Regions from separate parts of the Homo sapiens genome. Here regions 2 and 3 are each linked to region 1. The links come from fine-mapping of genetic effects on gene expression. A gene starts in region 1. Each other region holds a variant in brackets. All regions are shown on one strand. Distances are between the middles of the regions. Region 1 holds the start of FBXW2 (F-box and WD repeat domain containing 2). Region 2 has its middle 28 kb from the start of MEGF9. Region 3 overlaps MEGF9 (multiple EGF like domains 9).

Region 1 (8,186 bases):
ATTCATTTAGCCCTGGTAATATCCCTTTCAGATATGTTATTTTCGTAATTAAGCTGAGCATCTGAGTAGCTTAATGGTTTAGTAATTTGCCCAGGATCACAGTGGGTAAGAGGTTGGGATAGGGCATGATTTGAACTCAAATCTGTCATATTCCAAAGCTCATTCTTTTTTTTTTTTTTTGAGACGGAGTCTCGCTCTGTCACCCAGGCTGGAGTGCAGTGGTGCGATCTTGGCTCACTGCAACCTCTGCCTCCTGGGTTCAAGGGATTCTCATGCCTCAGCCTCCTGAGTAGCTGGGATTTCAGGCGTCTGCCACCACGCCTGGCTAATTTTGGTATTTTTAGTAGAGATGGGGTTTTGCAATGTTGGCCAGGCTGGTTTCAAACTCCTGATCTCAGGTGATCCACCTGCCTCGGCCTTCCAAAGTGCTGGGATTACAGGTGAGAGCCACCGTGCCCAGCCCCAAAGCTCGCTCTTAACCATTGGAGAATCACAATTCCTATCTTTACTTATCTCTTTCTTTCTCTTTCTTTCTTTTCTTTCTTTCTCTTTCTTTCTCTCTTTCCCTCTGTCTCCCCCTCCCTCCCTCCCTCCCTTCTTCCTTGCTCTCTCTCTTTCTCTTTATTTTTGAGACAGAGTCTCACTCTGTGGCGCAGGCTGGACTGCAGTGGCATGATCTTGGCTCACTGCAACCTCCGCCTCCCAGGTTCAAGTGATTTTCCTGCCTCAGCCTCCCAAGTAGCTGGGATTACAGGCATGCACCACCACTCCCAGCTAATTTTTGTATTTGTAGTAGAGACGGAGTTTCACCATATTGGCTAGGCTGGTCTTGAACTCCTGACCTCAGGTGATCCGCTTGCCTCGGCCTCCCAAAGTGCTGAGATGACAGGCGTGAGCCACCGCACCTGGCCCCCATGTCCTTTAAACAGTCAAAAAACACAACAAAACAAAAAAAACCCAGCAATTATAATCTGAACTCCTTTCCATTTTCTCATTTACACATAGAAAAAAATTTCAGCTTCCTCAAAGCCTATTTTACTAGATATCAAATGCTTTAAAGATTGTAAGAAACTTACTTGCATGTTGCCTGTGAGCAACTTCAGGGTCTTAGAAATTATTGAGTCCAGGTGCCAATTATGCCCAAACGCATCTCAGGATCACTCTAGTCTAACAGCAATTGCAGTAAAGTACTTTGTGCCTCAACTTTTGAGGATAAGGTTTCTTGCCAATCAACCTGAGCTTTTATCCTAGAATACCTGCTGACTGCATAGGAGAGTGGGTGCTGATCATGTTACAGCTAGAGTGAATCCAGAACAAAGAACAGACAAAGCAAACCTCTTCAAATGCTTCCAACCCTGTGTACTTCATGAAACTGACCCCATGTCTTTATGCTGAGTTCCTGGTAAAGTGTGTGTGGAAGTTCAAAGAACAGTTACCCAGATCACTTCTCCATAGCATCATTGCACAAGTAGATATATCCTATACTTTTTTTTGGAGTGCATCTCAAGAAACCAAACAGCTGGAGTAATGCCTGCTCCCTGGTACATACACATGCAAAAACTGTACTAGACATAGAGGAAGATTTTTCATCCCTAGTGGGTGCATTATTTTCTCCCAAAGAAACATCATATGGTGAGGTCTGGTGTATGGCTCATTGGGAAGGATTCAGAATCCCTAGTATTGGCTATGCAAGCACTTTACTAAATCAATTTTAAGTCATCTAAACTACCTCCCCAGGCAAGTTTAGCTCAAAATGGAAGACAACATACAGTCCACTTTAGCCGGAATTGAAGAAACTAAACATTTGATGTTTTCTCCTTTCCTGGAGTATGCATGTGTAGGAATTATCCCAAACATCATTTCTACCAGCAAGTTTATTTCGAGAAAAGAAACAACATTCAGCATATTTTCATGTTCCTGTCACACAAGCAATTATACTGAGCATTCTTTTCTCATGCCAGGCTATATTTCGTCCTTTCCTTCAACATCCAACATGTTGATCTTCCTATCTGCCATTTACAACAGCTTTTGTAATTATTTGGCCAGGAATAACTTCTTATATTTAAAGTTGGCTATGTTTTCTCAGCAACCATCATACAATCTTGAAAATCTTTACAAAGTGGGAAAAATCTAACCTAAAAATATCAAATGAAAGGGAATTTTTACATATTCTGAATTTAACAATTCAATAGGTCTTGTATTTAATTAAATATTACGTCCACTTTGCAATTTAAAAATTTTTTTATAGTCATGAATTTTGCTCCTGGATCCCCTCTGGGCTTAAATTTGCACAATTTGGTTTCTTTGTTATGAGAGGTCCAAACAATATTATCTCTGGGGCAGCTCCATCTGGACTTTTCAATTTGATTCATCAAACTGTACTGGGGTTGAGAATGTTTGCTCCAAAGAGATATGGGTGCTTGATTTTCTTGATTACCCTGGTACTGCCTTCCCTTTCATAGAGAGTATCCAATCTGTATATCTGTCTTCCTAAATGTCTTATAATGCTGTGATCAGTCACGTTCTGACTTAGAAGTCTAGAGTGACATCCTGTTGCTTAGCAAATCAAATTTGCTCTCTTGAGACCTTACTTTTAGGACACCGTAGTTGACTTCCACCCCACATAATCAATTTTTATTTCCCATGTTTCAAGTACCCTAAATGAAGTCAGGATGCTTGGAACCTTGGCCATGCTCTACCATCTACTGGATATGTGTCTCTCTTATTGTCTATATTATTGGACTGTGCTATCAAGCATGGTAGCCATTAGCCTCATGTGGCTATTAAATTAAAATTAAATAAAATTAAGAATTTAGTTCATTTACATCAGGTACTTTTCAAATGTTCAGTAGCCACAAGAGACTAGTGACTGCCTTATTGGACAGCACCAACAGAACAACTCCATCACTGGCAAAAAGCTTATTGGACAGTGTTGGTATAAGATGTATGTGAATGTGCGTGTATGCATGTATGGCTTAGGAACCCTTACAGAGAAACAAGGATAACTTGTGCGCTGGGCATTGTGGTTCACCCCTGTAATCCCAGCACTTTTTGGGAGGCCCAGGCAGGTGGATCACTTGAGCCTAGGAGTTCAAGACCAGCCTGGGTAACATAGCGAAACCCTGACTCTACAAAAATACACACACACACACACACACACACACACACACACACACACAACTAGCTGGGCATGGTGACACGCGCCTGTGGTCCCTTCTACTCAGGAGGCTGAGGTGGGAGGATCGCTTGAGCCTGGAGAAGTCGAGGCTGCAGTGAGCCAAGATCGTGTCACTGTACTCCAGCCTGGGCGACAGAGTGATACGTTGCCTCAAAAAAAAAAAAAGGATAACTTGTGCTCTGAAGTCGGTTTGGGTTGAAATCCTATGACAGCCATTTACTATGACCTTAGGCAAGATGCCTAAACCTCTTTTGATTTCAGTTTCCCCATCTCTAAAAAGGGGCCTAATAATAGTTACTAGCTTGTGGGGTTGTTGTGGGAACTGAGTGAGATGGTACACAAAAAATGTTGAGAAAGAGTGCGTGGGATTTTTTAGCTCAGTTTTAGTTCTTGACGCCAAAAGGTTTGCATGCTTCATTTCCTTCAATCCTCAGAGCCTTCGGATGGGGACCTCACTATAATTGCTATGCAGATGAAGCAAAGTCTGAGAGGTTAAGTAACCGGGCCACAGCCAGAGTGTAAACGTTGTGATTCATTCAAATCTACATCACTTGACTGTCTCTTTTCATTCAACAACCTCCTTACCTTGCTTTATTTTTCTCCTTTGCACGAGCCTTAGTTTATCTGTCTTCCTCCTCCTAATAGATGTAAGGCCCAGGCGGTCAGGGGCTTTTGCGTTTTTTGTTCACTAACCCTATCCCCTAGAACAGCGTTCGGGATAAAGAGGTGCCCAACAGGTTGTATGAATTTGGACACGTCTCTTAACTTCTCTAAGCCACAGCTCCCTCTCCTCCGTAAAATGAGGATAATAAGAAAAACTACTGCAGAGCTGGTGCAAGATCAGATTGGAGGAGGGACATAAGCGCGCTGTGCAAACCTGGATGTACGGTACGAAAGGAACCTCCGTTCTAGGTTGCACCCAGCCTAAGCACCGTGAGGGCCGCGCGGCACGCGTTCAGCTTCCCGGGACGCTCTTCTCCCCACCCCTACTCCCGGCCTCCAGCCTCCCACCACCCACCTCCGGGCGGGGACCGGAAGTGCAGCCGCTTCCGCCGGGAGCCGCGGAGCTGAGGGACGCGCGGAGATGACGCAGGCAGCACCGGAAGCCGCTCCCCTGTGAGGCTGCGGACCGGGAGCAGCGGCCGCAGGTCCGGGTCTGTATGCGAGGCGGGGCCGGTCGGGGAGGGGACTCTTAGGCGCCCGCGGCTCTGCTGACCCGCCGCGCCTTGGCTGTTTTTCTTTCCCTGCAGGCGCCATGGCTGCGGAGCGGACCCGGCCGCTGCAAGGCTCTGGCGGTCCGAGCGTGCCTAGTAGCTGTGAACCCGGCGCGAGGTCCCGGGCCCCGGGGCGCTCGCTCAGGTCAGTGCCGCGCGGAACACGATTCCGAGAGCAAGGGACCTGGGAGCAACGAATGGGTTGATGGGATCTGGATTTTAGAGACGGGAAAACAGGGTTTTGGAGTTACTGCCTCCTACTGCCTCCATTTCCTTAGCTGCGAAATGAGTTAACAGTGATGTCCCAGGGCTACCAAACGTTTGAAAGACGATGAAGTGTGATGAGGTGGTTTATGAAGTACAAAGCGCTATACTGCGCCATAATTGTGGGTATGCCATGAAAACAGGTGTGTATGTGGGGTGCTGCTTGAAGTAAAGCAAAGATAACAATATTAATGCTAAGTAATAATGGTAACTGACATTTACTGTAGGCTTACAGCGTGCCGAGTACTGTGCTAAACGCTTTACTTGCACTGTCTTGTTTAACCCTCATAAAAACCCTTGTAGGTAATGCTCTTGGCTGTATTTTACAAGTGAGGAAACAGGGCATGAGACAGGTGAAGTGATTTGCCCAAGGTCACCCAGCAACAAGTGGAGTTGCAGAACACATATTTTATAAACATTATTTGTATTCTTTCAAAGCTTTAAAAAAATTCACCTTAAAACTAAAGGCTATTTTTTGATAGTATATTATACTTAACATGGTTTTCAGTTTTAAAAGGTATACAATAAAAAGGGACCCCTCATTCCTATTCTGCAGCTCTCCAGTTCTCTCTGGAGGCAACCAGGGTTATCAGTTTCTTGAATATTCAGAATACATTTTATGCATATGTAAGTTTATAGGTGTGTATACATTTTCAGCGCCTCTGTGCTCTTTGTTTGATAAGAAAAGGGGGAAATGAAGCCTCCTTCCCTCTACCACTAACAATTATGTTGCTTTCACTCTTGACTAGGCCAGGTTCTGATAGAGGAGGAGGGGAAAACACATTTACACTGTTTTCCAGAAGGTCCTGTCTCTAATACCTCTGAGTATAGGTTTTGGGAGAATGGGTACTGGGCAAAATATTGAGCCTGCTACTTCCTGTGCCATTCTGGGAAGGCCACTCCACTTCTTGAGCCGTAAATTTCCTCATTAATGTTAGTTAAGGGCGGCATTACTGATACCTTCCATGAGGTTATGAAGATGAAATGAGATAATGTTTACCAGTGGTACTTTTTCTTTAAAACCAATATAAATATGTGAGTTGCCTAGGTAACATAGGGAGTTAATGGCAGAACCTGAGACCAAACCCAGGCTCTCATTTTCCAATTTAGGAGTCTTTTTGTTGCATGACCCACTTTGTGATTATTGATACTGAAGGCAAGAGGGCAAGTTGAATGTTAACTCTGGGGTAGGGACGTAGGGTAAGGGGGCCAAACAGCAGGGAATGTGGGTAGAATAAGGCACCTACTGGGAAACTAGAGCCTCCAATAAACAGGTGCTCTTCTTTATAAAATTAAACCCCTAGTAAGTTTGAGCCCTTGAGTTTTTCTTCCAGGTATTTTGAAGAGAAACTTAGTGATAAGATGATAGGGTCAAAAGAGATGTTAGTGGTCATGTCCATTCCACCCTTAGTGTCACAGAAATCTTTACTGCCAGGTGTTCATAGTAGTAAAACTAACAAAAAGTACCATTTGAGTTTTTACCCGCTAGACTGTACACTGTGCTAAGCATGTCCCTGCTATATTTCTGAGTTTCACCCTTCAAGTTGGATGATGGCTTCCATTTTACAGATGATAAAACTGAAGCTTAAAAGTTAGTTGGACATGCCCATAATCACATAGGAAGTGGCTGAATCAGTAAAACATCTGGCCAACCTCCAAAGTATTTTCATTTATCACATTCTGCCTCTGTGTCCAACTGTCCTTGACTGTTCGTGGTAATGGGAAACTCACTACTCTGGAGGTAGCTATTCCATTGTTGGAAAGCGCTGAGATTTAAAAGCTCCTCATGTTGAATTGAAATCCCATTTCCTGAGGTTTGTGCAACCAGTGTATGATATTTCTAGAGGCTGCCTAAAAGAGTCCAGTTTAGACCTGTTACCTTAGAAGGCCCCCTCCAAAGTTAGTTGATCTGTTCAGAAAAGTAAAAATTGGTGTTTTTTAAATAGTGCATTCTGCAGTTAGTGAGACTTGCTTTTTTAGGGAAAAAAATGCCTTTTTCAGAATAATCAGAGGTGAACTGCTCAATCTTACAAGGGATTGAGTGGTTTAAAAGGCAATCTAAGAGTTGGGAAAATTTTTTTTATTAAGAGTTAGGAGAATATATAAATCTGAGACATGGCTGAATTTTTTTAGATGTGCTCTCTGAAAAAGCTTCTTCCGTAATCTTTAGCGGTGTCATGGGCACATTAATTTGGCATTTTTTTTTTAAATTTAAGTTCTAGGGTACATGTGCACAACGTGCAGGTTTGTTACATAGGTATACATGTGAATTTGGCATATTATAGTATGTCTCTTAGATATTTGTGAATGATGGGAACCTGATAATATTTTAATGAGTATTCTAAATTTGCCTTGTAGCCGTTTGAATAACAGTTCAGCTCACTTAAATACAAGCATTTCTACAATAGATGTGTGTCAGCATGTGTATGTATGTGTGTATATATGTATGTGTAGATGTGATGGAGGAAGCTTGCCACACCACACTTTTCACTGTTAAAAATGTTTCAGGAGCAGGTGTGTGGTTTTTTTTCTTTTTTTTCTTTTTTGAGATGGAGTCTTGCTCTCTCGCCCCGGCTGGAGTGCAGTGGCGTGATCTCGGCTCACTGCAAGCTCCGCCTCCTGGGTTCACGCCATTCTCCTGCCTCAGCCTCCCGACTAGCTGGGACTACAGGCACCCACCACCATGCCAGGGGAATTTTTTGTATTTTTAGTAGAGATGGGGTTTCACTGTGTTAGCCAGGATGATCTCGATCTCCTGACCTCGTGATCCGGCCGAGCCCACCTCAGTCTCACAAAGTGCTGTGATTACAGGCGTGAGCCACTGTGCCCAGCCTGGTGTGTGTTTTTAATTGACCAGTATTAATTAACTAGCTATTGTGACAATATGCAGATGCCCACAGAAGATAATTGCTTTGTCTTGTTGCAAATTATTATTTTTTAGAAGTAGAGATTTTGAAGAAATGTTGTATAGATAAGAGGGTTGTTAGGATTTAGAGGAAGGAGGGGGCTTGTTATTGCGTGATAAGTCGATAAAACTTTTAGCCATCTGATTATTTTTTGTCAGCTAGGTAAATTTTTAATACAGATTAATAAATCTTCTCTAGCCCAAACTTTGGCTTGAAACGTATTATCTTGAAGTCTAGTCACAGTTCCAGAAATCAAAACTGTTAGCAGATGATGTGATTGCAAGGTTTGGTTGCTTCTACTAATAAATCAGATTGCTTATTTGTCTAAGAATGTTATTGCCAAATTTGATATTGGACACTTACAATTTTACTCACCTTACATTATCAAAGTTGAAAGATGAGATCTTGCTTTTTGTGTAGACCTGATCTAGGTGATATGTCTGGAAAGAAATTAACTTTCCTTTTTCACATTAATTTGGACATATGTTTTTAAAATTAATATGACAGTCTTGTGAGAAACTGAGTATTCAGAAGGAAAGTTTTTATTAAACCATGGAAATATTTAAATATATGGAAATAAAGAGAATAATAAATCCCTATGTACACATCACCCAGCATTAACAT
Region 2 (8,186 bases), 52 kb after region 1:
TCCTTTAGATATCTATCCAGCTGTGGGATTGCCAGGTGAAATGGTAGCTGTGGTTTTAGTTCTTTGAGGAATTGCCACACTGCTTTCCACAATGGTTGAACTAATTTGCACTCCCACCAGCAGCGTATAAGTGCTTTCTTTTCTCTGCAACCTGGCCAGCATCTGTTATTTTTTGACTTTTTTTTTTTTAAGACAGAGTTTGGCTCTTGTCGCCCAGGCTCGAGTGCAATTGTGCAATGTCAGCCCACTGCAACCTCTGCCTCCCAGGTTCAAGCAATCCTCCTGCCTCAGCCTCCCGAGTAGCTGGGATTACAGGCGGCCGCCACCCTGCCCAGCTAATTTTTGTATTTTTAGTAGAGACAGGGTTTCACCACTTTGGCCAGGCTGGTCTGGAACTCCTGACCTCAGGTAATCCACCCGCCTCGGACTCCCAAAGTGCTGGGATCACAAGTGTGAGCCACTGCGCCTGGTCTTGACTTTTTAATAATAGCCATTCTGACCTGTGTGACATGGTATCTTGCTGTGGTTTTGATTTGCATTTCTCTAACAATCAGTGATACTGAGCATTTTTTCATATGCCTGTTGGCCGCATGTGTGTCTTCTTTTGAAAGTGTCTGTTCATACTCTTTGCCCACTTTTTAATGGGGTTGTTTGTTTTTTGCATGCACAGTTGTTTAAGTTTTTTGTACATTCTGGATATTAGACCTTTGTCAGATGTATAGTTTGCAAATATTTTCTCCCGTAGTGTTCTTTGATGAGGTAGTCTAGATCTGAAGATTAGATTCTGAGCATCGTAACACTAAAGGCAATAAGAGCTACAGAAAAGTGTAAAATAGTTTACTGATTCAAAAGCCAGAAAAATAAAGAACTTTTAAACATATTTTGACAAATAGTTTAGAATGATATTCATTTGAGTTAGCATTCAGTGAATGTGAGTGACTGACATGACCCTGTTCTTAGTGTTAAGAAAATTGAAGTATAGGGAATCCTAAATAAGTTAAAATGGTATCTTACACCAGTTTAACAAGTTAAACTTTTTTTTTTTTTTTTTTTTTTTTTTGTGACGAAGTCTCACTCTGTCACCCAGCCTGGAGTACAGTGGCACTACCTTGGCTCACTGCAACCTCCACCTCCCAGGTTCAGGCGATTCTCCTGCCTCAGCCTGCTGAGTAGCTGGGACTATGGGTGCGCACCACCACGCTCAGCTAATTTTTGTATTTTTAGTAGAGACAGGGTTTTACCATGTTGGTCAGGCTGGTCTCCAACTCCTAACCTCATGATCTGCCCCCCTCAGTCTCCCAAAGTGCTGGGATTAGAGGCATGACCCATCATGCCCGGCCTAACAAGTTAAACCATTAATTCACATTTGACAGTTGCATTTAACAAATTTGTATTAATTTGCATTTAACATTGCATTTAACAAATCCCACTGGCCTTCAGGCTGTACTCTGCGTATACTAAGATGTTTCCCGCTTTGGAGTTTTTTAGATATTGTTCCATTTGCCTGAAATGGAAGTGTTTCTCCTGGATCTTCACAGGTTTTGCTCCTTCTCAGTACTCACAGCTATCCTCAAATTTCACCTTTCTAGAGAAGATTTCCATGACCACTCTGTCTATAAGAACCTGATCTCGACCCTCAATCATTCTTGAACTCCATACTTTGTTTTTCTTCACAGCCCTTATTCCATATGGTATTATACTGCCCCGTATATCTATCCATTTACTAATTTATTGTGCGTCTTCGCCCATATGAGGCTGGGGGCTTTTTCTATCTTGTTCCACAAGGCACAGATCCCTAACACGTGAGATAATACAATACTTGGTACAAAGCAGGCACTCAGTTAAAGAATTGCTAAATTAATTTAAAAAATCCCCTGTGCATGGCCGCGTCTATCAGTTATCTATTACTGTGTAATAATCTACTCTGAAACTTAGTGGCTTAAAATAATGATTTGTTATTTTTCACAATTTGGCGGGTTGACTGGGTCTGCTGGGCTCACCAGGCAGCTTACAATCACTGGTGGCTGGTCCGGGAATATGTGGGCTAAGACAGCTTTATCCACGAGGCTGGGGCCTCAGCTGGGACAGCTGGGCTTCTCTGCATGGCCTTTCAACCTAGGCTTCTGAACTCAATGCCAGAAGCCTCCCAAGAAAGCAAAGGGAGAAGCAGTGAGACCTTGAGGTCTAGGCTCTGGAACTCTGCAAGTCACTTCTACCATGTTCTCTTGGTCAAAGCAAGTCCAGAATCAAGGCGTGAGGAAATAGATCTACCTTTTGATGGGAGAAACCACAAAACACCGTGGTCCTGCTTTTCAACATACCACATTACTCCACAGCAGCCTTCTTTCTTTTTTTTTTTTTTTGAAATGGAGTCTCACTCTGTTGCCCAGGCTGGAGTGCAGTGGCACGATCTCGGCTCACTGGAAAACAAACATTCACATTGATAGAAACAAGATATGAGTACTTCATTGATTCATTCATTCAAAAAATATTTGTTGCGTATCTACTACATGCTGTTTTCAACACACTAGATCCTGGTAATTCATGGTAAACAGACATGATTCTCACTCTTCTGGTGTTTACAGTATTTAAATTCTGCTGATGTTTGTTGGATATCTACTATACATTATACATTTTTAAAAAGTTTTTTCAATATAGAGATGGGGGTCTCACTATGTTGGCCAGGCTAATCTCAAACTCCTGACTTCAGGTGATCCACCCACCTCGGCCTCCCAAAGTGCTGGGATTACAGACCTGAGCCACCGCATCTGGCCCCAAAGCAGCTTTCTAAGTTTGTAAATAGCATTACAGAAATCATCCACCTTTGCTCAGCCCAGTGCCTGGCAGCCGACAAGCCCTCGCTGTTGGTCCAGGGATGAATGAATGTCATCAGTGATTGATTCCACAGTCTTCCACAGTGTGCCACTTGTCTAGACATATTGGCCTATACTGTCCCCTAGTGGAATTTGAGAATTGGTACATTCCACCTGAGACCTAAGGATACATTCTCTAATGGGAGATTGAATTGTAGGATTCCAGGTTACAGATAAGGGCGGTGGCCCCTGAACTTTAGCACAGATACAAGTTATAGAGTGATCTTATCAAGAATGACAGATTTGGCTGGGCGCAGTTGCTCATGCCTGTAATCCCAGCACTCTGGGAAGCTGAAGCGGGCAGATCACGAGGTCAAGAGATCGAGACCATCCTGGCCAACATGGTGAAACCCCATCTCTACTAAAAATACAAAAATTAGCTGGGCATGGTGGCGCATGCCTGTAATCCCAGCTACTCAGGAGGCTGAGGCAGGAGAATCGCTTGAACCTGGGAGGCAGAAGTTGCAGTGAGATCCGCCACTGCATTCCAGCCTGGCGACAGAGCGAGACTCCGTCTCAAATAAATAAATAAATAAATAATAATAATAATAATAAAAGAATAGCAGATTCCTGGGCTCCATCCCAATAAGTTCAATAAGTCTGAAATGGTCTAAATTCATTAAGTCCTAGCCCTTTATTTAACCTCTGTAATGAGTGGGTGCTCGAGGTTGAGGCTACAGTTGTGGGAAGAGGACCCTATGTTTAAGGGCAATGAGATGAGCATTAGAAAACAGATCTGTCACTTAGTCTGTGTAATCTTGGGAAATCCACTTAATATCTATGATTCTAGTTCTCTCATCTGTGAAATAGAGTTAATGATACCTATCTCATAGGGCTGTTGTAAGATTAGAAATAGTGCCTAGTTACAATGCTTAGTAGCTAAATTATAACTCATAAAGTGGGGGTTAATATTATTGGTATAGTACAATGACAAAGGTTTGTAAAAAATGTATAGCGTTGGCCAGGTGTCGTGACTCATGCCTGTAATCCCAGCACTTTGGGAGGCCAAGGCAGGAGGATTACTTGAGCCCAGGAGTTTGAGACCAGCATGGGCAACATAGTGAGACCCCCATCTCTATATTGAAAAAAACTTTAAAAATATGTAAAGTGTATAGTAGATGTTCAACAAACATTAGCAGAATTTAAATACTGTAAGCACCAGAAGAGTGAGAATCATGTCTGTTTACCATTGATTACCAGGATCTAGTGTGTTAAAAACAGCATGTAGTAGGTGCGCAACAAATATTTTTTGAATGAATGAATGAGACACTCATATCCTGTTTCTATCAGTGTGAATGTTTGTTTTCCCAATGTATATTTCCTTATAAGCACTGGATGTACCAGAAATTTGTTGTGTGTGTATGTTTTAAGTTGTTTTGTTTTAAGTTCTCCAAGGACTTACAGACACTTTGTTTTTTTGTGTACCTCAACACTGACTAAGCTGCCAGGAGTCAAGCTGTTTTTAGAAAAGTTCTTTTTATTCAGCAGAACATTGACTACAAAAAGAAAAAGAAAAAAAAAGGTGTTTTTTTTTGTTTTTTTTTTTAGTTATATAGTGATAAGAACACCAGCCTTGAAGACAAACTACTTCAGTTCAAATCTCA[A/G]TTCTAACTAGTTGTGTTACTTTAGCAAGTCACTCACCCTCTCTGGACCTCAGTTTCCCCATTTGAAACATGAAGGAGTTCAAGGATCATTTCTGCTCTAATGTATTAGGATTCTGTATGTCTAATTCAGTGTTTTAAATAACCCCTTTATTGTAAAACTAATACATGTCTATTGCCAAATATTTGAAAAATATCAAAAGGAGTAAATAAGGAAGTAAAAACCGCTGTCAATAGCACTCACCCAGAAGAACCACTGTTGACATTTGGGTGAATATTCTTCTAGTCCTCTTTACAGCTATGGATAATTTTTACCAAAAATTATCAGAACATATATTCCATTTTGTAATGTGCTTTCTCACTTAATATGTTAGCAGACTTTTTACATCATCAGTGTTCTTCAAGAGCATGATTCTAATCTCTGTGGAAGGTTGAATCATAATTCATTTAAACAATCCCCATTGGATATTTAGGTTAGTTCTATTTTTTAGCATAAGTAAGGCTTCGACAACCAGCCTTTATACAAATCTGTACCCACATCTCTACATTTTTCCCCTTAGGTTAAATTGTAAATTTTTTTTTTTTTTTTTTGAGACAGTGTCTCCCTCCATTACCCAGGCTGGAGTGCAGTCGTGCGATCGTAGCTCACTGCAGCCTCAAACTCCTGGGCTCAAACCATCCTCCCGCTTTAGCCTCCCCGTGTAGCTGGGGATACAGGTGTACACCACCAAACCTGGCCAAAACTTTTAAATGTATCACCAAATTGCCCTCCAAGTGAAGTTACACATGTGTACACTCTCATGAGTAACGTTTGAGTGGCTATTTCCCCATGATCTCTCCAACACTGGTTATTGTGGTTTTTTAAAAGACCTTGCCAATGTCATAGGTAAAAAAATAGCATATCATTGTTTGAATCTAATGTTATTTTCATTATACTGTTTTATTTCTGGTAGAATGTAAAATTGCATACATACTATTTTTACAACTTTATAAAAATACATGGAACACACATGTTTCAAATGTGGAAAGAACAATAGAAAAATGTCAGTAGTTGTATGATGGGATTGTAATATAATTCTTTTATGTTGTAAATTTTTTAAATTAAAAAGAATCTCTGTAGCAGATGGCTACTTATTCCTCCAAATTCTTCCCCTCTTCCTGGGCACAGTTGCCCAGCTACAGGCTACATTTCCTAGACTCCTGTGCAGCTGGATGTGACCATGTGGTTAAGTGTGGACTAACCAAATATTGAAAGGAAGTGATGTGAACATTTTCTGGGTCATCTCCAGATTTAAGCTCCTTATCTGGAATGTTGGTTCTTCCTCCTTTCCCAGAGTTAGCAACCCAGCCTTGATTAAGCAAATAATGACACCTTAGGGGATGGAGACCAACAGGGAAACTACCTGTTTTTTGTTTTTTGTTTTTTTGACAGAGTCTTGCTCTGTAGCCCAGTGGCATCATCTTGACTCACTGCAACCTCCGCCTCCTGGGTTCAAGCAATTCTCCCTGCCTCAGCCTCCCGAGTAGCTGGGATTACAGGTGTCCGCCACCACGCCCTGCTAATTTTTGTATTTTTAGTAGAGACGGGGTTTCGCCATATTGGCCAGGCTGGCCTTGAACTCCTGACCTCAGGTGATCCACCTGCCTCGGCCTCCCAAAGTGCTGGGATTACAGGCATGTGCCACCGCTCCTGGCTGAAACTGTATCTGTTTATGGCGGCATCACTTGACCAATCCAGCCTGGTTGTTTTGTTTTGTAAGAGAAAAATTAATTTTGATGTTTTTGCACCCACGATATTTTGGGGCCTCTTTGTTACAGCAGTGTAGCTGTGACCCTAATAATCTCAAACTTCTCCCTAAGACTGGGGACATTTTAGGGACAGTTTCACAGTTTGTGGAGCTGATTGGAAGCTGGTAGCAGAGGACTGGGAAGCTACTATATACTTTCCTGAATACTAGAAAATGTTTTTTTTTTATATTCCTTCATATAAACTTTAACAAAATTCTGTGTTAGTATATTTTTTGTTTACAAGGTTTAGAAATAAAAAAATATAATTTATGGTCGATACAAAATACAAAATCACAACGTAAACATCACAACTATAAGTATCCAAAAAAATAAGCTGCCAACCAACATGCTCCATTGAGGATAAATTTCTCTTATTAATAATACTTTGAAGGCTACAGGTTATCACTGGTTTTGCTACATTGTGTACTTTTAATGGCAATGATTGTGGTTTACATGATCATGACAATAAGAAGCATACTTTTATTTTTTTATTTTTATTCTTTTTTTTTTTGAGACGGAGTCTCACTCTGTCGCCCAGGCTGGAGTGCAGTGGTGCGATCTCAGCTCACTGCAACCTCCGCCTCCTGTGTTCACGCCGTTCTCCTGCCTCAGCCTGCCGAGCAGCTGGGACAACAGGCGCCCGCCACCACGGCCGGCTAATTTTTTTTTTCTTTTTTCGTATTTTGAGTAGAGATGGGGTTTCACCATGTTAGCCAGGATGGTCTCGATCTCCTGACCTCGTGATCCGCCCGCCTCGGCCTCCCAAAGTGCTGGGATTACAGGCATGAGCCACCGCGCCTGGCCATTTTTATTCTATTTTTTAAGACAGGGTCTCACTCTGTTGCCTAGGCTGGAGTGCAGTAGCGTGATCATGGCTCACTGCAACCTCCGCCTCCCAGGTCCAAGTGATTCTCCTGCCTCAGCCTCCTGAGTAGCTGGGACTACAGGTGCACGCCACTACGCCCAGCTAATTTTGTATTAGTGGAGACAGGGTTTCACCATGTTGGCCAAGCTGGTCTCGAACTCCTGGCCTCATGTGATCCACCCCCTTGGCCTCTCAAAGTACTGGGATTACAGGCAGGAAGGATACTTTTAAAAAACAGTTTCAGGCTGGGCGTGGTGGGTTTCATCTTTATCCTAGCACTTTGGGAGGCCGAGGCAGGTGGATCACTTGAGGTCAGGAGTTGGAGACCAGCCTGGCCAACATGTGAAACCCCGTCTCTACTAAAGATACAAAAATTAGTTGAGCGTTGTGGCAGACACCTGTAATCCCAATTACTTGGGAGGCTGAGGCAGGAGAATTGCTCAAAACCCGGGTTTCGATGAGCCAATATGGCACCGCTGCACTGCAGCCTGGGCAATAGAGTGAGACTCCATCTTATAAATAAATAAATAAATAACAGTTTCACATTATTGGTTCAATTGAATGGATTCACAGTTACTGCTGTTGAATGTAGTTGCAATGACTACTCTGGAAAGTACAGTGCCAGGTGGCACTCTGAGAAGTCAGCATTTGTCCTAGGTATTGGACGTTGGCAAGAGACCCCAGCACCACACACAGGAAGTTTGGAAGGTACTCATCACAACAGTTCACCCACTATCTTCATGAACAACTGGTTCCACAGCCACCAGGATGACTTGGGTCCACAATTCTCGTCACCATTATACAGCCTAGCTATGACCCACTCCCTGGGGACCTAGGGAGTCAGGACCTTCAAAATCTAGGGAAGGCAACAGTGACTTCAGCTTCCCCTCGTCACGTGGGAGGGGAGCCTTCCTTTCTCCTGAGCGGGCCCTCTCCTAGAACCCACAGTAGTTGTAGGGTGGCAGTGATCCCCAGCCTGCTCCTTAGTGAGGAAGCCTGGATTCTGTTCCTCCTTGTGACATGGCAGAGACAGGAATTTCAAGGCCAGAGGGCATGGAT
Region 3 (8,186 bases), 160 kb after region 1:
CCAAATGGACCTAACAGACGTTGACAGAACATTTAATCCAAAAGCTACAAAATGTACATCCTTTCTTTTCAATAGCACATAGAACATTCTCCAGGATAGACCACATGTTAGACTACAACACAAGTCTTAACAAATTTAAAAGAATTAATATTATATCAGGTATCTTTTCTGACTGTAATGGAATCAAACTAGAAATCAACAATTAGAGGAACTTTGGAAAGCTATACAAATACACAAAAATTAATATACTCCTGAATGACCACTGGATCAATGAGGAAATTTTAAAATTTCTTGGAGCAAATGAAAATAGAAACGCAACATCCCATACCATGCTATGGGATAGAGCAAACACAGTATCAAAAGGAAACTTTATAGCAATAAACACTTGTATTAAAAAACTAGCAAAATTTCAAATAAACAACCTAATGATCCAGCTTAAGGAACTAGAAAAGCCAGAAAAAACAAAACTCAAAATTAGCAGAAGGAAAGACATAATAAAGATTAGGGCAAAAATTTTAAAATTGAGACTAAAAAGCAATACAAGAAATCAGCTAAATAAAAAGTTGGCTTTGAAAAGATAAACAAAATTGAGAAACCATCAGCTAGACTAACCAAGAAAAAAAGAGAAAAAACCTAAAGAAATAAAATCAGAAATGAAAAAGAGGACATTACAACTGATGCCACAGAAATACAAAGGATCATTAGAGGCTATTACAAACAACTGTATGCCAAGAAATCTGAAAACCTAGTGAAAATGGATAAATTCTGCTTGTATGGAAACATGCAAGCTACCAAGACTGAATCAGGAAGAAATGGAAAACCTGGACAGCCCAGTAACAGGTAATGAGATTGAATCAGCAATAAAAAGCCTCCCAATAAAGAAAAGCCCACTGGTTGCATTCATAGCCAAATTCTACCAAACATATGAAGAAGAACTAATACTAATCCTCCTGAAACTATTCCAAAAAATCAAAGAGAAGGGAATTCTCCCTAACTCATTCTGTAAGGCTAGCATCACCCTGATACCAAAACCAGACAAGGACACAACACAAAAAAGAAAACTACAGGCCCATATCCCTGAATAACATAGGCTCATAAATCCCCAACAGAATACTTGCAAACCAAATCCAACAACACATTAAAAAGAAAATACACCATGATCAAGTGGGATTTATACTAGGGATGCAAGGGTGGTTCAACACATGCAAATCAATAAACGTGATACATCAATCAACAGAATGAAGGACAGTAACCACATGATCATCTCAGTGGATGCAGAAAAAGCATTTGATAAAATTCAACATTCCTTCGTGATAAAAACACTCAAAAAATAGACAGAAGAAACGTACCTCAGAATAATAAAGGCCAATATGACAAACCAACAGCCAGCATCATACAGAGTGGGGAAAAGGTGAATGCCTTTCCCCTAAGAACTGGAAAAAGACAAGGATGCCCACTTTCACCACTCCTATTCAACATAATACCAGAAGTGCTAGCCAGAGCAATTAGGCAAGAGAAAGAAATAAAGGGCATCCAAATTGGAAAGGAGGAAATCAAATTGTCTGTTTGCAGATGACATGATCTTTTATATAGAAAACCCTAAAAGCTCCACCAAAAAGCTCTTAGAACTGATAAATGAATTCAGTAAAGTTGGAGGACACAAAATCAACATAAAAAATCAGTGCTGTTTTTACACAGCAACAGTGAAATAGTGGAAAAAGAAATTTAAAAAACCAATCCTATTTAAAATAGCTCCAAAAAAAAAAAAAAACACTTAGGAATAAATTTATCCAAGAATATGAAAGATTTCTACAAGGAAAACTATAAAACACTGATGAAAGGAAATTGATTAGGACATTTAAAAAATTAAAAGATATTCTATGTTTATGGGTTGAAAGAATTCATATTGTGGTCTGGGTTCTTGGGAGGCCGAGGTGGGTGGATCACCAGGTAAAGAGATCAAGACCATCTTGGCCAATATGGTGAAACCTGTCTCTACTAAAAATACAAAAATTAGCTGGGCGTGGTAGCATGCACCTATAGTCCCAGCTATTCAGGAGGCTGAGGCAGGCAAATCACTTGAACCTGGGAGGTGGAGGTTGCAGTGAGCTGAGATCGCATCACTGCACTCCAGCCTGGCGACAGAGTGAGACTCCATCTCAAAAAAAGAGGAGGAGGAGAAGGAGAAGGAGAAGGTGAGGAAGGAGAAGGAGAAGAAGAATTAATATTGTGAAAATAACCATACTACCAAAAGTGATCTACAGATTTAATGCTATCCCTATCAAAATATCTATGGCATTCTTCACAGAAATAGAAAATACAGGGCCGGGCACAGTGGCTTATACCTGTAATGCCAGCACTTTGGGAGGCTGAGACTGGCAGATCACTTAAGGTCAGGAGTTCAAGACCAGCCTGGCCAACATGGCAAAACCCCATTTCTACTAAAATTACAAAAATTACCCAGGCATGGTGGTGCACACCTGTAATCCCAGCTACTCAGGAGGCTGAGGCAGGAGAATTGCTTGAACCTGGGAGGTGGAGGTTGCAGTGAGTTGAGATTGCACCACTGCACTCCAGCCCGGGTGACAGGGCAAGACTCCATCTCAGAAAAAAAAAAAAATGCAATCAAATTCATATGGAACCACAGGGGACCTCAAATACTCAAATTCTGAGCAAAAAGAACAAAGCTGGAGGCAACACACTGCTGGACTTCAAAATATACTACAAAACTTTAGTAACCAAAACAACATGGTACTGGCATAAAAACAGACACATAGACTAATGGAATGGAATAAAGAATTTAGAAATGAATCCACATACTTACAGCCACTTGATTCTCAGAGGTGCCAAAAACATTCATTGAGAATGGGACAGTCTCTTCAATAAGTGGTGCTGGGGAAACTGGATATCCATATGCAGAAAAATGAAACTAGACCTTTATCTCTCACCATATACAAAAATCGTTTCCAAATTGACTAAAGAACTAAATGCAAGACTGAAAACTATGAAACTACTGGCAGAAAACATAGAAGAAATGTTTCAGGGCAGTGCTCTGGGCAGAGATTTTGTGAAGACCTCATCAGCACAGACAATAAAAGCAAAAATAGACAAATGGGATCGGATCCAGTTAAAAAACGTTTGCACAGCAAAGGCAGCAATCAACAGAGTGAAAAGACAATATGCAGAATGGGAGAAGATATTTGCAAACTATTCATCTGAAAGAGACTAATATCCAGATATCTTCAAACACCTCAACAACCAGTAAACAAATAATTTTAAAAATGGGCAAAGGAGCTGAATTAACATTTCTCAAACAAAAACATACAAATGAAAAGTACTCAACATCACTAATCATCAGAGAAGTACAAATCAAAACTACAATGAGATGTCATCTCACCCCCATTAGAATGTCTGTTATCAAAAAGGCAAAGAATACATGCTGGCAAAGATGCAGAGAAAAGGGGACTCTTATACACTGTTCTAGTGGAAATGTAAATTAGCACAGCCATTATGAAAAACAGTATGGAAGTTCCTCAGAAAACTAAAAATAGAACTATCATATGATCCAACAATCCCTCTACTGGGTGTATATCTATAGGAAAGGAAGTTAGTATGCCAAAGAGATATTTGCATGCCCATGTTTATTGCAGCACTTCACAATAGCCAAGATACAGAATCAACCTCTGTGTCCATCACCAGAAGAGTGGCTAAAGAAAATGTGTGCAATGGAACACTAGTTAGCCATAAAAAAGAATGAAATTCTATCATTCATGGCACAATGGATGAACTTGAAGAACATTATCTTAAGTGAAGTCAGACAGATGCAGAAATACTGCATGTTCCTACTTATGTGGGAACTAAAAATGTTGATCTCATAGAAGTAGAAAGTAGAATAGTGGTTATTAAA[G/A]GTAGAAAAGGTGGGAGGGGAAGATAGCCAAAGGTTGGTTAACAGATATGAAAGTATACATATAGGCTTTGTATTGACATACCACACTGTACCCCATAAATATGTACAATTGTTATTTGTCAGTTAAAAATAATAGCAAAAAAGGCTACTCAGCAATGGGCGGATGGTCAAGGTATACTGAACTGTACCATTAAAGAGTGAAAATAGCCATAGACAATACGTAAATTAATGACTGTGTTCCAATAAAACTTTTCTTTTTTTTTTTTTTGAGACGGAGTCTCACTCTGTTGCCCAGGCTGGAGTGCAGTGATGCGATCTCAGCTCACTGCAACCTCCACCTGCCAGGTTCAAGCAATTCGCCTGCCTCAGCCTCCCGAGTAGCTGGGACTACAGGTGCGTGCCACCACGCCTAGCTAATTTTTGTATTTTTAGTAGAGACGGGTTTCACCATATTGTCCAGGATGGTCTTGAACTCCTGACCTCAGGTGGTCCATCCTCCTTGGCCTCCCAAAGTGCTGGGATTACAGATGTGAGCCACTGCACCCAGCCAAAAATTTTTTTGGGGACTGTCTCACTCTGTCACCCAGGCTGGAGTGCAGTGGCACAATCTTGCCTCACTGCAACAACCTCCGCCTCCCAGATTCAAGCAAGTCTCATGCCTCAGCCTCCCGAGTAGCTGGAATTACAGCCGTGTGCCACCATGCCATTAATTTTTGTATTTTTAGTAGAGACGATGTTTTGCCATGTTAGCCAGGCTGGTCTCGAACTCCTGGCTTCAAGTGATCTGCCTTCCTTGGCCTGTCAAAGTGCTGGGATTACAGGCATGAGCCACTGCACCTAGCCTGTGTTCCAATAAAAGTTTATTTAAAATGTGTCTCAGGCAGGATTTGGCTCTGTTGTTCAGATTAATCATCATGACTGGGCCAGGCACAGTGACTCACACCTGTAATCCCAGCACTTTGGGAGAACAAGGCTGAAGGATTGCTTGAGCCCAGGAGTTTGAGACCAGCCTGGACAATATAATGTGAACCTGTCTCTACAAAAAATAAATTTCAAAAAGTTATCCAGGCATGGTGGCACATGCCTGTAGTTCCACACTCAAGAGATTGAGGTGGGAGGATATCTTGAGCCAGGGAGGTTGAGGCTGCAGTGAGCTGTGATCGCACCACTGCACTCCAGCCTGGGCAACACAGTGAGACCCTGTATCAAAAAACAAAAAACAAAACAAAGTCATCATGACTGGAGTGTTGTACTCATGAGAAAAGTTTTCAGAGGCTATGAGATTGTATCATTGAGAGGTGGTTATTGTTTCAAGACAATTCTCTAAAGATCTCTTGTGCTTTTGCAAGCAGAGGCACTGCCTTGTTCTGGACTATTTATTCAAGGATATTTGCATAGCAAACTGCCTTGGAAAATAGAGCTAATATCTTCCTCTGGAGTAAAGAACAGATTTGCCACTGTCCAATATAATAAAAATAAAGTCTCCCTCCTGGGCAAAGATCAGGTAAGCTCACTGTCCATTATAAAAGATTTGGATTCTCTGAGTTTGGGGTTCTTCTTCTGTAACAACCCACCTCATATGCAGGCATCACTGGCCCTCGTTGCATGACCGTTGGGAATTGAGGTTTGGGGACATGGTGTAAATGCTGATACTCTACTCTAGCTACTGCTTTTGTTTGGAGGAATAAACTGTCCTCTGTCTCTGAAAAAAAAAAAAAAAAAAAAAAAAAAACAACGACAAGAATTTCTGTCTGAATATGGATTTCCTCTAAACATATTTTAGACTATTTGCCCTCAAAAATACAAGGAATGTTTAGCATAATAGCCCAATGTTTTCAACAATAAAGCTATCCTTTTTTTCCTCCAGAAGCCTCGCTTATTGCATAATGATCTTTTCCATAACTGTGGAAAGACAGAGGAACACTAAATTCAGATAATCTTTTGCCAGAAAGTCCAATTATTAAGTTTCTTTTAACAAGAGGAGAAACTATTATTTTCTTACCTCTACAAAATCATGACCCAGACATGAAATTAAGAATTTTTAATAACGTTTTATTTTATTTTTCCATATAAAACCTTTTTGTAGTTGGAAAAACTTTTTCTAGCTACCTTTTAAAGTTCGATTTTAATATATTGAGCGAGTTTATAATCAGCAGTTTGGTATTACTGATTTCAGACTTTTAATTACTAGTTTCAGTCTCTTCCCAAAGTAAATTGTTTTTTAGTTATTTAAAAATAGCTTAAAATGTTATTTTTAAGTTCATTTTTAAAAGTGGAGGAAGAAGAAAATTGATACATTTCATTATCTCTTAATTGTGTTTCTTATTGTCTTCATGTCAGAGTGTCAACATGTGTAATGTCTGAGGAAGAAGGAAAGGGGAAAAGCAAAAGTTCCCAAATGACCACAAATGAATTAATTTTCTCTAATTAGAACTATGGGCTGGGCGCAGTGGCTCACACCTGTAATCCCAGCACTTGGGGAAGCCCAGGCGGGTGGATCACTTGAGGTCAGGAGTTCGAGACCAGCCTGGCCAACATGACGAAACTCTGTTTCTGCTAAAAATACAAAAATTAGCCGGGCGTGATAGTGCATGCCTGTAGTCCCAGCTACTTGGGAGGCTGAGGCAGGAGAATCGCTTGAACCCAGGAGGCGGAGGTTGCAGTAAGCCGAGATTGTGCCACTGCACCACTCCAACCTGGGTGACAGAGCAAGACTCCATCTCAAAAAAAAGAAAAAGGAAAGAACTATGTATAATTTTTAATTATTCTGTAACTGCTTGAGTTAAAATTGATAATGTGATACCTAAAAATATACATACACACGTACTTTATATCTTGTAAATCTTAGGAAGAAAATAGACTTTCTTGATAACAAAAAACATGCCAAGACATTTAACAATTTAGAAATAAATCATTAACTAGTTGGTAGAAAAGCAAGTCAGGTCCAGCTGGCTTTGATCCCACCTAATGTAGGATTTTGCAGATCCTTTCTCTTCTCGATTAAAATTTTTTCCCCCAAAACTGTTTCTACCATGTGTTTATAATGTGCTCTCTTTTTCTAGCCATATTTTTGCTACAAACTAGTAATTATCCTTTAATGTTTTGCTTTTTTTTAGTTTTATTAACAGAATTCTAAAATTTTAAATTACTTACAAATTTTAAATTTTAAAAGTAAGTAACTTAGTCTTCCCTGTCTTTGCCAACTGGGAATTCTAACCTACTTTCCTTAGAATTCTCAGAAAATATTTAAGATCTAGGATCACTGTCATCATGTCCATAGTTGCTTTCATTTTTGAGTACTGAGTATGTGCCAGACACTGTGCTAAATGCATTGTGTATGCAATTTTTAATATACTACAAAGGTTGGTATAATTGTCTTCACTTAACAAATGAGAATACAGAGGCCAAGATAGAATGAATACTTTGTGCCAGCTAGTCACTAGTAGAGCTGGAATATGAACCAAACTCTGTTTCCTCGGGCTGGTTTTTTCCATAAACTCTGATACTCCTTTCCTGTATTATACCCATCCCACCTAATCAATGTGACTGTAAAATAATGGAAATTCTGAAGCTTCTCCACCCACTCATCTTAAACAGAGTCTTTAAAAAGGTAATTTGGCTTGTATTCATGTGACATAGATATGTACCATATCTTGAGATGATACACCAGTGAATTTTCTTTTGAAAAAGTAATGACTATTAGTGTTGTAAAATATGTTTTTATTTATATACACTTAAAAAATGCTTTTTTCTAAAGTGTTAAAACCTTGCAGGAGTTGTTCACACCCATGAGTATGTAAGTTCTATAACTGAGCATTACTACCACAAGAAAATCTGAGAATCCCTTTTGGGATAATTTAAGAAATGTGTAGTATATGCATAGTTACACTTAATGCAGCGTAGCTCCACAATGCTTATGCTTCGTTTATGAATAATTCTATATTCTTTTTTTTCTGATATAATTTTTGTGCTATCTTGGTACTTTACTAGCAACATGTCATTAAGACCAGATAAGCAAATTTTATCTTAAATTGTTAGCTGATCTCATAGTACAGATGTCTGATTTCTATTTAAAATCCAGTTCTACACATTTATTCTCCAGTTATGAAGCTGTGGGTTTTGGTTCTTTCATTTCAAATCTATGGATAAGCATAAGTGGTCTGTTCACAGCCTTTTTTTTTTCTTTTTTGGTTTCATTGCATTTATATCATTGACCTTTGCTTCAGAAAGCATTCAAGTCTTTAACAGAGAGAGACCATGAAAGGGAGTGTTGTAAAGT

Evidence for each region. PIP is the estimated chance that this variant, and not a neighbour inherited with it, causes the effect.
Region 2: its variant is the best candidate, but not a certain one, in a credible set for the expression of FBXW2 in whole blood (TOPMed, PIP 0.71).
Region 3: its variant is the best candidate, but not a certain one, in a credible set for the expression of FBXW2 in whole blood (TOPMed, PIP 0.64).

Annotation. Positions count from the first base shown.
Region 1 is chr9:120,789,500-120,797,685 of GRCh38, reverse strand. It overlaps FBXW2 (F-box and WD repeat domain containing 2), which reads left to right and starts at 4,270. Exons shown (of 8, transcript NM_012164.4): 1 at 4,270-4,332; 2 at 4,429-4,537. B3GALT9 (beta-1,3-galactosyltransferase 9) reads right to left here and starts at 4,219. Exons shown (of 3, transcript NM_001386823.1): 1 at 3,764-4,219; 2 at 1,077-1,263. The coding sequence starts at 1,082. RefSeq lists enhancers at 3,257-3,346, 3,777-3,876, 3,939-4,569.
Region 2 is chr9:120,737,901-120,746,086 of GRCh38, reverse strand. No RefSeq gene overlaps it. Among named protein-coding and RNA genes, the nearest start is that of MEGF9, 28 kb to the right of the region's middle. The variant A/G (reference allele first, on the strand shown) is at 4,478.
Region 3 is chr9:120,625,922-120,634,107 of GRCh38, reverse strand. The region is part of intron 2 of MEGF9 (multiple EGF like domains 9); the gene reads left to right. Among named protein-coding and RNA genes, the nearest start is that of CDK5RAP2, 50 kb to the right of the region's middle. The variant G/A (reference allele first, on the strand shown) is at 3,908.